Linked DNA regions of Homo sapiens. The protein of the gene in region 1 purifies or fractionates together with the protein of each later gene. This does not show direct contact. Each region holds a gene or a part of one and is shown in the gene's direction. Other genes may lie near its edges.

What was found. Proteins that work in one complex are often made in the same cells at the same time.
Region 2: the proteins of IRAG1 (region 1) and ITPRID2 purify together in Homo sapiens (affinity purification with mass spectrometry; one large-scale study listed by BioGRID and IntAct). This does not show direct contact.
Region 3: the proteins of IRAG1 (region 1) and ITPR3 purify together in Homo sapiens (affinity purification with mass spectrometry; one large-scale study listed by BioGRID and IntAct). This does not show direct contact.

Annotation. Positions count from the first base shown.
Region 1 is NC_000011.10:10,574,532-10,579,743, reverse strand, and holds part of IRAG1 (inositol 1,4,5-triphosphate receptor associated 1), read left to right. Parts: intron 1-3,168; coding exon 3,169-3,412; 3' UTR 3,413-5,212.
Region 2 is NC_000002.12:181,905,230-181,908,729, forward strand, and holds part of ITPRID2 (protein ITPRID2), read left to right. Parts: intron 1-3,500.
Region 3 is NC_000006.12:33,624,322-33,627,821, forward strand, and holds part of ITPR3 (inositol 1,4,5-trisphosphate-gated calcium channel ITPR3), read left to right. Parts: exon of another isoform or gene 1-69; intron 70-3,500.

The DNA of each region.
Region 1 (5,212 bases):
AGTTCCAGGGCACTCCATGCAATGAAGTATTATAGGAATGAGGTCTCAGCCCCACCTGGCCTGAATTATCCCCTAGAAGTTCACGCTTAGGGATAGGATAAACTAGCACCCATAGATGAGGTGTTACTCTACCCCACAGATATAATAACCATGCCAACATTCTGGATTTTCAGGACAGCCCAATTTCATATATTCAGCTATGTTGTCTCTATTAGTATAGTTAAACCACAAGTCTTGAATTTTGATTTTTTAAAATGTAGTAATAGCCACCTTGGAAAACCTTCACCAAAATCTATTTTTAGACCCCTGGGATATCTTGGGGTCCAGGGCAGCTCCAGACAAAATATCTAATCAGCTGCTGAAATATTATCTAATCTGGGTATGTATCTGTGCCTCATTGCTGGAAAACTCTGGAAACCACATGCATGCAACAAATAGGTAATGAAGTGAAGATTAGAAGCAAAATGGATAGGCACACAGGAGCTATCAATAGAGCCCAGTTGGTGGAGAATTCAACTAAAGTCAGAGGTCTCAGCCCATGCTGGTCGACCCCATTGTTCAGGGGAAGAGCCGTTAGGAGAACTGGAGAAATGCTTCTCCACTGAAAACAAATCACACACTGTCTCCCCAGTGAAAGAACCTCCAAGTTTAACAATTAAAGTGCAATCCCTACTCCAAGCAACCAGATCCTGTTCTCCTTAGGCCTCATCTCCCTCCTGAGGGTTCTCTGCTGATATTTCTCAGTCCACCACATTGCCTTCCTCCCCTTTAATGCAGTCAAGCAAAGCCCTAGACAAAAAGCCTTTCCTCTGGCACCCGTGAATACAGCAGAGACAGACTGGAACTTCTAACACTTCCAAACACTGAGAAAGAACAAAAGAGAAATAAACAGAGAGAGAGTACATGGAATATAAACAGTCTGGTTTGCAAAGCAAGGGGCTCAATGTCTTATCTAGCTAATTCAATCTCAGGCAATTGTCAGCTCCCTCCCATTTCATGAAACCCCAGGGGAAGTAAGGCTTAGCTTGGTTCCTTTCTGTCCAGCTCCTGGTCATCAGTGAGTGGCAATGGTGCCTGTAACATTTATCATGCACCTGCTCTCAAACATGATTTCTTCCCTGAAATGTTGGTGCCTCACTAACAAGCAAGGTTTGAGGTTATTAAGAGTTCCATGTCCTACTTATTGCATTTTTAAAACACTGGGTTCAGCCCAGCTGCTGATCGCTTAAGAGATTCAACATCACACATTAAAGTATTTTTGTCTGAGTCACGTATCTGTTATATATAACAATTATGTTACAAATATTGCTCTCTTGAGGATCAGTTTAAATAAACTTTGGGTAAACCCCAATATTTTAACCATATTAAAACAGAAAGCACAGTCTTCTGACATTGAACAAGTGAGACTCATAAGGGACAAGATAAAACTTTTGTCTTTTCTCCTAACGGCTGTTCAAACCAGTTCTATGGGGTTAAGAGGACATTTAGGTTCCTTTACTTTTCCAATAACTCTCAGGAAACAGAAGTTTACTTATTATAACCAAAAATTGACTTCTAAAGAAATTCTATTTCTAATCTATTTCTAAACTCTTTTATAGGCCAGGCATGGGTGACCAGCTAAGGTCACACAGACAGATCTTGGTCTCTTCCTCCAGAGCCACACTTAAGAGTGGGGTTAGAGTAGGGAGAAGCCACTCTGGCACCTTGTTTTGGAGGATGGAAATACAGCCCCAAAGGCTCCATTTTAGCATCCAACTCTGTCTAAATAGAATCTAGAGAATCTACAAAGGGCTGAGAGAAAATAACCTTCTACTTCTAAACCCTGCCTTCCCAACAGTTGTGAAAATAGTCAATGATTTTCAAATCAGCGAATGTGTTCACTTTCGTGCTTTCCTTAATTGTGACTGAAATGATCTGATGGGGTTCCCGCATGGAACGGAAACCTGTCAATGTTCTCTGTGGCCCTAGCATCCAAGGCAGGCATTCTGAGCATCTGGTCCCTTTCTAAGGAGGGCATTTATTGAGTCTGTCAATCCTTTGTTAGTCATGCATTTTCTGCTACCTCAAAATTTGAGCTCTCCGCTTCTCAGCCAATGGCTTGGTCATTGCTGTGTGTGTATGAGCCTCAGGATCTTCAGAAAGCACTTCTATCACTTTCCCCACCTCCTTGGTTCAGGAATCCTCAGTATTCTCATTTTTCATATTATTTTTTAAATTGGGTTAGAGGTTAAAAACATCAGGAAATCCTGGCTTAATGAAGGGGCTCAGGGCTTCTTCAGAGAGCTCTAGAATGAACTTGTCAAAGCAGGCCATCTGCCCGGTGTCTTTTTACCACACCACAGAGAGAGAGAGAGGACAAAATGAAAGACAGTTGGGAAGGAATCAAGAGGGAAAAGGGGCAAAAATGGAGAGGAAGAGAGAGATGAAAGGGATAGAGAAAGAAGTGTGGAGAGAGTGAAGGAAGAAGAGGAGGAAGAGGGAGAAATTAGAGAATAAATATTAATGAGGTTGAGATAACATCATGAACAAACCACCCAGACATTGCTAGAGGCTTCTAATCTTCTGCCTGCTCTTGGATGGTTTGAAGTGAACTCTTGAGGTTGATCTAGTCCCTTGTCATTTATCACTGGATATCAAGCTGCTTAGAGTTTAGCACAGTCCTTCTACTCTGGACACAGTTAGATGTGGAACTGAGAACAATGAATTACGCATCTGAGGCAAGGCACAGGTTAGAGCTTGGAACTGATCATTAATGCAGCTAGGTGCTAAAAAGATGCATGGCCAACCAATCCTGTACCCCCGGGCTTGGGAGAGTGCAGATATCAGTAATCACCCCGTGAATAGATGAGGGCATGTATGGATGGATGATCAAACAATTAAGTAGAATGATCTAGATAAGTAGCTCTCAACTTCAAGGCTGTGGACTGGTGGAATCAAAATCACCTGGGAAAATTTAGCCAATGATTCCTGGACCATAACTTTGGATATTCTCATTTAGTATGCTTGGGGTATTTTGAACAATTGCTGCCAACCCAATCTAGGCACAGCTAAGTTTGAGAACTATTGCTCAAGACAGCATGGAAGCTATCCGCAGAGAGAACTGTGGGTCTGTGTATCATATGTGTGCCCAGTATACTAAAGCCTCTGCATATTTTTTTTCATTGACAGCAAACTTGAAGAATTGGTCCATTTCTTACAAGTCATGTATCCCAAACTGTGTCAGCACTGGCAAGTGATCTGGATGATGGCTGCAGTGATGCTGGTCTTGACTGTTGTGCTGGGGCTCTACAATTCCTATAACTCTTGTGCAGAGCAGGCTGATGGGCCCCTTGGAAGATCCACTTGCTCGGCAGCCCAGAGGGACTCCTGGTGGAGCTCAGGACTCCAGCATGAGCAGCCTACAGAGCAGTAGGAAACCTCACACCTAGCCAGTGCCCTGCTCTGAGACACTCAGACTACCACCCTTTCCCCAAGTATAACGTCAGGCCCAAGTGTGGACACACTGCCGCCCATCCCATCAGGTCATGAGGAAGGGTTCTTTTAACACTCGGCACTTCTGTGGGAGCTATTCATACACAGTGACTTGATGTTCTTGGAGGATCAACAAAACTGCCCTGGGAAAGCATCCAGTGGATGAAGAAGTCACCTTCACCAAGGAACTCTATTGGAAGGGAAGGTCTCCTGCCCCTAGCTCAGGTGGCTGGGGAGAACTAAAACACCTTCACTGGTGGTTGGGGGTAAGGAGCGGGGCACGGGGGAGGAGGAGGTAGGGGGCAGTAAAAAACTTACTCTCTTTTTTCCTCTCTGTAATTGGTTATCAGGAAGAATTTGCTTAATGACTAACACCCTAAGCATCAGACCTGGAATTTGGAGTTGCAAAGTGACTATCTTCCCATTTCCCATCTCATTTTCAATAACTTCAGCCTCCCATTCTTTCCTTTGGAATGAGAGTTTCTTTTTACAGAAGTAGGAAAGGCTTCTCAGAAAAAAAAAAAAAAGTATAGGCTGAATTTAGCTCAGTGCTTGAAATGGGAAGATATGAATTATTATATACGCATCTGTCCACACATACACACATACTGTTGTGTACACACACACAACATGCCTGTGCACAGAGCCAACAACCCTTCAAAAGTGTGCTCTGGGTGTGTACCTCTGGATAAATAAGATGCATGCCAAGCCAACCCACAGATTTTCACCAGTGTGGGGCAGTCACCAGGCACCTGTTCAATGAGCTGTCCACATGGATTGAAGATGTTTTAAAAACACAGAAAACTCATGGCTTCAATGGCAGACTTACTAGTCTCCATTTCAAATGCCAACTCTGAGCTGCTGTACAGCACAATCTATTCCCTATTCTCTCTTTGAAAACAGTTAACCCACCTCACAGGTGAATGAGGAGAGAAGATGTGCTTTCTGCTTCAGTCTCTTACTCTGTGTGTGACCACATGCAAGAGTAAACTTGCACCTCAGTGCTTCAGTTCAAATGGGGTTTCCAACCCCAGTATAATTAGGGGTGTTTCAGAGCATCCCCAGTTATTTAGCACAACACTGAAGGAGCACATCCCCTCTCCATTTTGACTTCTCTCCCCACTTTTACAGCCACTGCCTTCATCAGTTTTGTAGAGGTTTGATTTCCATGTGGGTTTTGTTGTCATTGTTTTGCATTTTTGTTTTGTTATTGATATTGTTTGCTTTCATTGCTAAAACTCATATACGACTTACTATGAGCCAAGCACTGTTCTCAGTATTACATAGGTATGAATTCATTTAAGTCCTGAAGAAAAAGAAAAAAAAATACGAAGTGGATATTACCCTTCCCATTTTCAAATAAGGAAACTGAAGCACAAAAAGAACAAGTAACTTGACAAGGACACCCCGGTAGTAAATCATGGGGCTGGAGCTCAACCCCAGGGTAGGCTGGCTCCAGAGCTGTGCTCTCCTTGACTCTTCTGATGGTCTCCTAGCTGGAAGCCTCACATTTCAGTCTCATTCCCCCAAGTGGCCCATCAGCTACTCCATCTCTGGCTCCCCAACTAAACAGTTTCTCTCATAGTGCTGGACCTCCACTCACTAGTTTTTTTTCCAGCTGTTCTTCTCTTTTCTTCAGGTCACTCTTCTCGACCGAGTGCAAAAATTATCCCCTCCATACCAGCTTTGATGACCTTCCTTCCATACTCCTCACCAGACACAACATAATAGGTCACACACT
Region 2 (3,500 bases), on another chromosome or scaffold:
TAGTAGAGATGGGGTTTCACTACGTTGGCCAGGCTGGTCTCAAACTCCTGACCTCGTGATCTGACCACCTCGGCCTCCCAAAATGCTGGGATTACAGGTGTGAGCCACCACACCCAGCCTATAACTATTTATAAAAAGTTATTAAATCCTGTTCTTGAATTTCTAATTATTCCAAATGACTTGCTTCATTAATTCTTGTGTTCTTCTTGAATGGCTTATTTTGAATACGTCATGGTAACTCTCTGAAGCCATAGATTAGTAGTGTGAATGATTCACAAGTTAAACCAAAATGATCCTTCTCAAGCAGATGTTCATCTTTTAGATGTAAAGGAAAAACTTAAGAAGGAGAACTTTTATCTCAGCATTTCTGTAAGAAGTTGACTGTGTGGTCTTCTTGACCTTTAAATGAATTTTTATTTAAATATAACCATTATTGGATATACACATAATCTTTTTTAAGCTACTGATGTGTTAGTAACTGTTTCTAATCCTGTCTTCATACTAATTATTGATTTAACTAATGTACTTGACTTCTCATTTTTAGCTGTTAAGTTTTAGGATTTTTCTATGTTTATTGGTCTGAGTTAAAATAATCCCACATCAGTCAGATATTTGACAGATAATTAAGTTGTTCCTTTGGCCTTTTAAATGTAACTGTGTATGTTTTGAAGATAAGCCTGCCCTGGAATATGAACTCTAACATATGACATGCACAGATATCTGCTACTCTAAAGCCCAATTAACCACTGTTTTGTTATTTGATATTTACCTAAAAGACCTTAGTCAATTTTTATTGAAAATTTACCTGACAGTAAAAATAAATGATATTTTTGTGTGTATGTGTAAAACTCGATAGTATTTGTTTAAGATAAACATTTGCAAGTAATTTATAGAATCATAAACTAGTACGGAAAGAGATACTTTATTCATTTTCTAGTTTCTTCCCTTTACAAATGAGGAAGCATCCCCTCCCTCATTTGATATTGTTTTATAGCAGTGGTTCTTCACCATCTTTCTGAGGGCTATAATATTCCTTTTGATATCAGTGCTTCACAGGGGGAAGGAGCACAGCGGGTGTCAGTGGAGGATGGCAGAGGAGGATCTCCTGTTGTACATTCTTACTACTTTACTGTTTGAAAGTACTTTGACTTACAGTTACATTTGATCACCCCAAGGACCTATGAGGTAGAAATTTTAATTTTAATTTTGCTGTTAATTTTAATTTTGAGGCTGAGCATGGTGATTCACACCTGTAATCCCAGCACTGTGTGGAGGCTGAGGCAGGAGGATCACTTGAGCCCAGAAGTTAGAGACCAGCCTGGACAACATAGCATGACTTGTCTCTACAAATAGTTTTAAAATTAGCCGTGCATGGTGGTGCATGTCTGTAGTCCCACTTCTCCAAAGGCTGAGGTGGGAGAATCACTTGAGCCCAGGCAGTTGAGGCTGCAGTGAGCCATGATTCCACCACTGCACTCCAGCCTGGGCAACAGAACGAGACCTTGTTTCAAAAAAATGAAATAAAAAAAAAAAATACGGATATTTATCGCAGATAATTGTCAGAGGCCGTTAGCCAGTAAGTGGCATGAATAAGACTTGAATTCACGTTACTTGTGACTATACTATACAACTTGGTGAAGGTCAGATATGTTGGTATGGTCAGGCATTGTACAAGAACTAATCATCTGATGCACAGCACCATGCTACTACTTTGGAAAAAGAATGATTTCCTCTGACATTTTTTTGAGCTGTCATTAAAAATTAGACAGAATTGTAATTTCTAAAGCTCTAGTTTTGATTTTCTTTGAAAACCATTTTGATATACAATGTTTATTCAATGATGACAGCTATACAGTCTCTTTTTAAACTTTAGAGGAAGGGTTATTTGAGTTAGAACATCCATGTATTGCTGTCCTGTGCAATACAATACAGTAGTATTGTGCCTAGAAGATCCCTCTTAGTCAAGGTAAACATGACAGCTGTTAAGAAACCAAAGTGGTTCACTGAAACAAAAAGTACATTTTTTAAACAAGAGAAAGAAACCAAAGTGAGTGCCTGTCATTTTAGCAGAACATTGATTTAGAAAGATACAGTCATTGTTTCATGAAAACTTTTTTAAATGAAGTAACCCAAATGTGTGGGTTATTCTAAAGCTGTTTTTCATCTTTGAATCCCAAAACATTGAGACCATGCAATTTTATCACTTTGGTTTAGTGGTTTTTTTTTTTTTTTATATTATGAAACAGTTTTGTTATGAAAAGTTTCAAACTTACTTGAAGATTAGAGAAAATAATATCATGAACACCCATTACTCATCATTCTAATTCAGTTTTATTTGGCTATTCTTGTTAATTATGAAAGGCTGCTTATAGCAAATGACCAGAATTCTACGGAGCATTTGAAACCACTGAATAGGGAAAATCTTGTCACATAAATCTAAATTCTGTGTTCTATATTTGCTTCATAATTCTCTGTGGTGTACCCCATCTCAAATTTGACTGCCGCCTTTTGCACAATTGTGACCAATAATAAAATAAGAAATTCACCCATTATCACTAGCATGTATGTTTCTCTCTTCAGCAAGTGGGTACTCTGATTTTGCTGAGTAAACAAGAAGAATCCCAACTTTAGTTTTATTAGTAAAATGTGACTGTCTCAGCTTTTTGAAGTGCTCCTTTCTTGCACTTAATTATGGAGTTTGTAGTAAAAGGAGAGAGTAGATTTGTTTTTGCCATTGAGTAGCATCTTGAAGAATAGAATGCTGATGATATGTGTTTATTAAAGTCATGTTATTTTGTGATTAATTTCATAAGTCTAAGGAAATAGAATATGTGATAATTCTGTGTTTAAAGGTGAGCAGCCGGGTGCGGCGGCTCACACCTTTAATCCCAGCACTTGGAAGGCTGTGGCAGGTGGATCGCTTGAGCCCAGGAGTTTGAGACCCCAGCCTGGGCAACATGGTGAAACCCCATCTCTACCAAAAATACAAAAATTACCCAGTCTCATAACCCAGTCTCAAAATAAATAAATAGATTAAATTTAAAAAAAACATGACAGTGAGAGATTTGGTATATTAATGCTGTGCCTGAGCCAGTATTCCTAGAACATAAATGCAGAGGCATTGGAATTCTGCTATAATTTTTTGATCTGGTTGATATTTACTTTACAGAAAGATACTTGAAGTAGACCGAGCCTGAATAGAAGCTAATAATAGACATTTTATTGAATATAAAAAGAAAACGCACATTGTTCCCTTGCATACAAGACAATGGTTTTCCTGTTGAACATGTATCTGCTGCTTTGAAGAATTATTCTAATTTTAACAAGATAACAAAGAATAGTAGAATCTATTTTTATATATCTGATCTACAGGTGATGGTTTTGCATGAGTAGTGTGCTTTCAGTTTTCAAAAGATTCATAAACTTCGGTTCCTGGAGCTATGTAGAGCAAAGAAATCACAAATTAGAGCAAATTTTAAATTGGGTAATACTATCTTTAA
Region 3 (3,500 bases), on another chromosome or scaffold:
CTTGGTGGTGATTAAGGGAGCTGTGCTTCCTGCTTCCTTGGAAGTTAAGAGTCAAAGAAGGAATGATTTGTAAGTGCTGTAAGTAATCAGTCCAGCAGCTTCAGCGTCACCAGGAAGTTTGTCAGAAATGCAGAATCTCAGACCCCGTGCCCGTCCTACTGAATGAGAATCTGCATTTTATTAAGATCCCCAGGGGACTGGTGCATTAAAGTGTGAGGAGCGTTGCTCTGAGTGATTTTCTCTCTGCCCCATCCTCCTCAGAATCCTTCTGCCTCCTTTCTGAACTCTGGTCCCCTCTGCTTTTCCCGAGGCTGTTGGTGCCCATGTCTGTGAACCCATAGGCTGATTTGACTGAATTCCTGGGCTAACCCAGTGCCCAGTGTGTGGGCCCCAGGAGGTACCCAGTAAGGGCTGGATAAAAATGAATGTGTTGAAGGCAGGGGTGGCCTTGGTGGGCAGATGGGCCAGGTCACCTGGGAGATGGGAAGGGGGCATTAGTTGGGGAGGGAGGCAGAGGCAGCATTCAGATTCTGGCCAGAGCTCTTCAGTGCAAAGTGGACGAGGCCAATTAGAGCCTCCTGGAGAATTAGAGGTCCTAGTGAAGATTGTACATTAACTCTAGGTGGGAAGGATGGGAGGGATCTGGGTAGTGGATCCAGGAGCGGTTGAGACTGCCAGCCGGCCAGCAAGGGAAAGCAGGCCCACGCCTGTTCTTGGCAGGAGAGCAAGGCCAATGCCACTGCTTTATCCCTTACCCTAGGTGGGAGCAGCAGAGGCCAGGGATGGAGTAGCTGATTAGGGCCAACAAAAAGTGGAGGATTGAATGTGGCCTCAGGCCAGTGGCTAGGGAGAACTGGCCTTGGGTACACAGGGTGGACCCATCAGGATCTCAAGTCATCTCTTGAAGATCTCTTTTTTTTTTTTTGAGACAGAGTTTCACTCTTGTTGCCCAGGCTGGAGTACAATGGGGCGATCTTAGTTCACTGCAACCTCAGCCTCCTGGGTTCAAGCGATTCTTCTGCCTCAGCCTCCCGAGTAGCTGGGATTACAGGCATGTGCCTCCACACCCAGCTAATTTTGTATTTTTAGTAGAGACTGGGTTTCTCCATGTTGGTCAGGCTGGTCTCAAACTCCCGACCTCAGATGATCCGCCTGCCTCGGCCTCCCAAAGTGTTGGGATTACAGCCGCGAGCCACTGTGCCTGGCGAAGATCTCTTATGAGTACCCAGAGAGGTAGCCCCAGACCCACAGAAAGTAAACTGGGGGAGTGCAGGTGAACTGGGTCTTGGAGCTGAGCTTTCAACATTTGTCAAAGTGCCTCTGCCCACCCATGGCTCAGCCTTGGAGCCTATTTGGAGCTCTCAGGGCCTCTGGACCTGGATCACCCAGGGCTGGGTAATCATAGTGAGTAGGAGATGCTGCCTCTTACCCATGGGATTCTCTGTCTACCTGCCAGCCTGACCTGCTTCCCTGGAGGTCAGGACCCAAGAAGTATGGGGGTGAATATAGACGAAGCCCCAGGTCTCCAGGCTCAGGATCCCTAGGTCGGAAACCTCAGAGGCATAGCTCTCAGGAAGGGTGTCTGTCTCATGTTCCATCACCAACTTGTTGGGTGGTTTCTGTTTTGTTTTGTTTGAAATGGGGTCTTTGTCACCCAGGCTGGAATGCAGTAGTGTGATCTGGGTTCACTGCAGCCTTAATCTCCCAGGCTCAAGCAATCCTTACAACTCAGCCGCCCGAGTAGCTGGGACTACAGGCGTGTGCTACCGCATCTGGCTAGTTTTTGTATTTTTTATAGAGATGGGGTCTCCCCTTGCTGCCCAAGCTAATCTAAAACTCCTGGGCTCAAGTGATCCTCCCTCCTCTGCCTCCCAAAGTGCTGGGATTACAGGCATGAGCCGCCGTGCCTGGCCGTTGCTGGATGCTTTGAACAAGGCCCTGCCTTCTCAGAGTGAGTTTCCGTCAGCCTGCATTATCCTCTATGGTGCTCTGGCTGTACCTGAGAATCACCTGGGGATTAAAAAAAAAATTTCAGCTCCCAAGTCCCATGCCAGACCAACTGAATCACCATCTCTAGGGCTAAGGTCTGGGTGTTAGATTTTTAAAAAGTTCTCCAGGTGGTTTTAATGAGTACCTGGGGCCGGGATCCCTGATCTGGGGGCCCTCCCAGGCTGACAGGCTGTGAGGAAGCCTGCCTGCTAGGTCTACCTGCCCCTCAGCCCAGAAGGCCCATCTCTTTGCCCTCATCAGACTTCATAATGTCATTCAACAAACATTTATTAGGCATCTACCATGTGCTAGGCAAGGCACTGTTTTAGGCACTGCAGAATCAGTGGTACCCAAGGCACAGGTCCAGCTTGTTCCGTTCTGTGCAGTGGGGCCCTTTGAGCCTTAAGTCTGAGACACATGTAATTCCAGGAGCAGGGGACTGCCTTTCCCTCGCTGATAGCATTCCCTGGGTGGATTTCAGACCTGTCTTGGCTTTCTTTCTTTTATTTTTTTGGAGAGAGTTTTGCTCTTGTTTTCCAGGCTGGAGTACAATGGCACAATCTCAGCTCACCACAACCTTCGCCTCCCAGGTTCAAGCGATTCTCCTGCCTCAGCCTCCCGAGTAGCTGGGATTACAGGCATGTGCCACCACGCCCGGCTAATTTTTTTGTATTTTTAGTAGAGATGGGGTTTCTCCATGTTGGTCAAGCTGGTCTTGAACTGCTGACCTCAGGTGATCTGCCTGCCTCGGCTTCCCAAAGTGCTGGGATTACAGGCATGAGCCACTGTACCCGGCTTGGCTTTCATTTAATTGTGATTTCATTGGAAGAAGATGTTAGACTTCTGTTCTGTACCTCAAGGCAGATTCTTGGTCTTAGCCTAATCCATGCAACTCATTTTTTGAAAATATATATATTTTTTCAGATTAAAAAAAAATATACATTCCATGGAGAAAATGTGAAAAACTCAAAAAAATGATCTGTAATACCACTATGGCTTACATGAACATTCCCTATGACCTTCTAGCCTTTTATATTCATAAATGAACATTTACAAACAATATCAAACTGCACGTATGGCTTTGTACCCTGTCCTTTTTTGCATATATATAGTGAGCTGTATTTTCCCATGCCAACACACCATTGTTATGGCTGCACAGCCATGGTATGCTGTACCTTAATTTATTTAAGCAACTCTAGTATTCAACATTCAGGCTCTTTGTAAATTTTTGCTGTTAAGAACAATTTGCCCTGAACATCCTAGTGCATGCATGCCTGAACACTTGTCTAGTTATAGTTATCCTCTCAGGTAATACGTTCCCAGAAATGGAGATCAAAGACAAGGTACACCTTTAACTCTTAGGCTGTCTAACTTTTTGTGTTTCTGTGGTGGTGGAGGGGTATAGGAACAGAACTTGGTGCCACAGAGGGTCAGACATGATTCATGTCATGTGTGAGTGTTGCACTAGCATGTGGGGAGTAAGACCAGCCTCTGCCCTCAAGGTTAGGTAC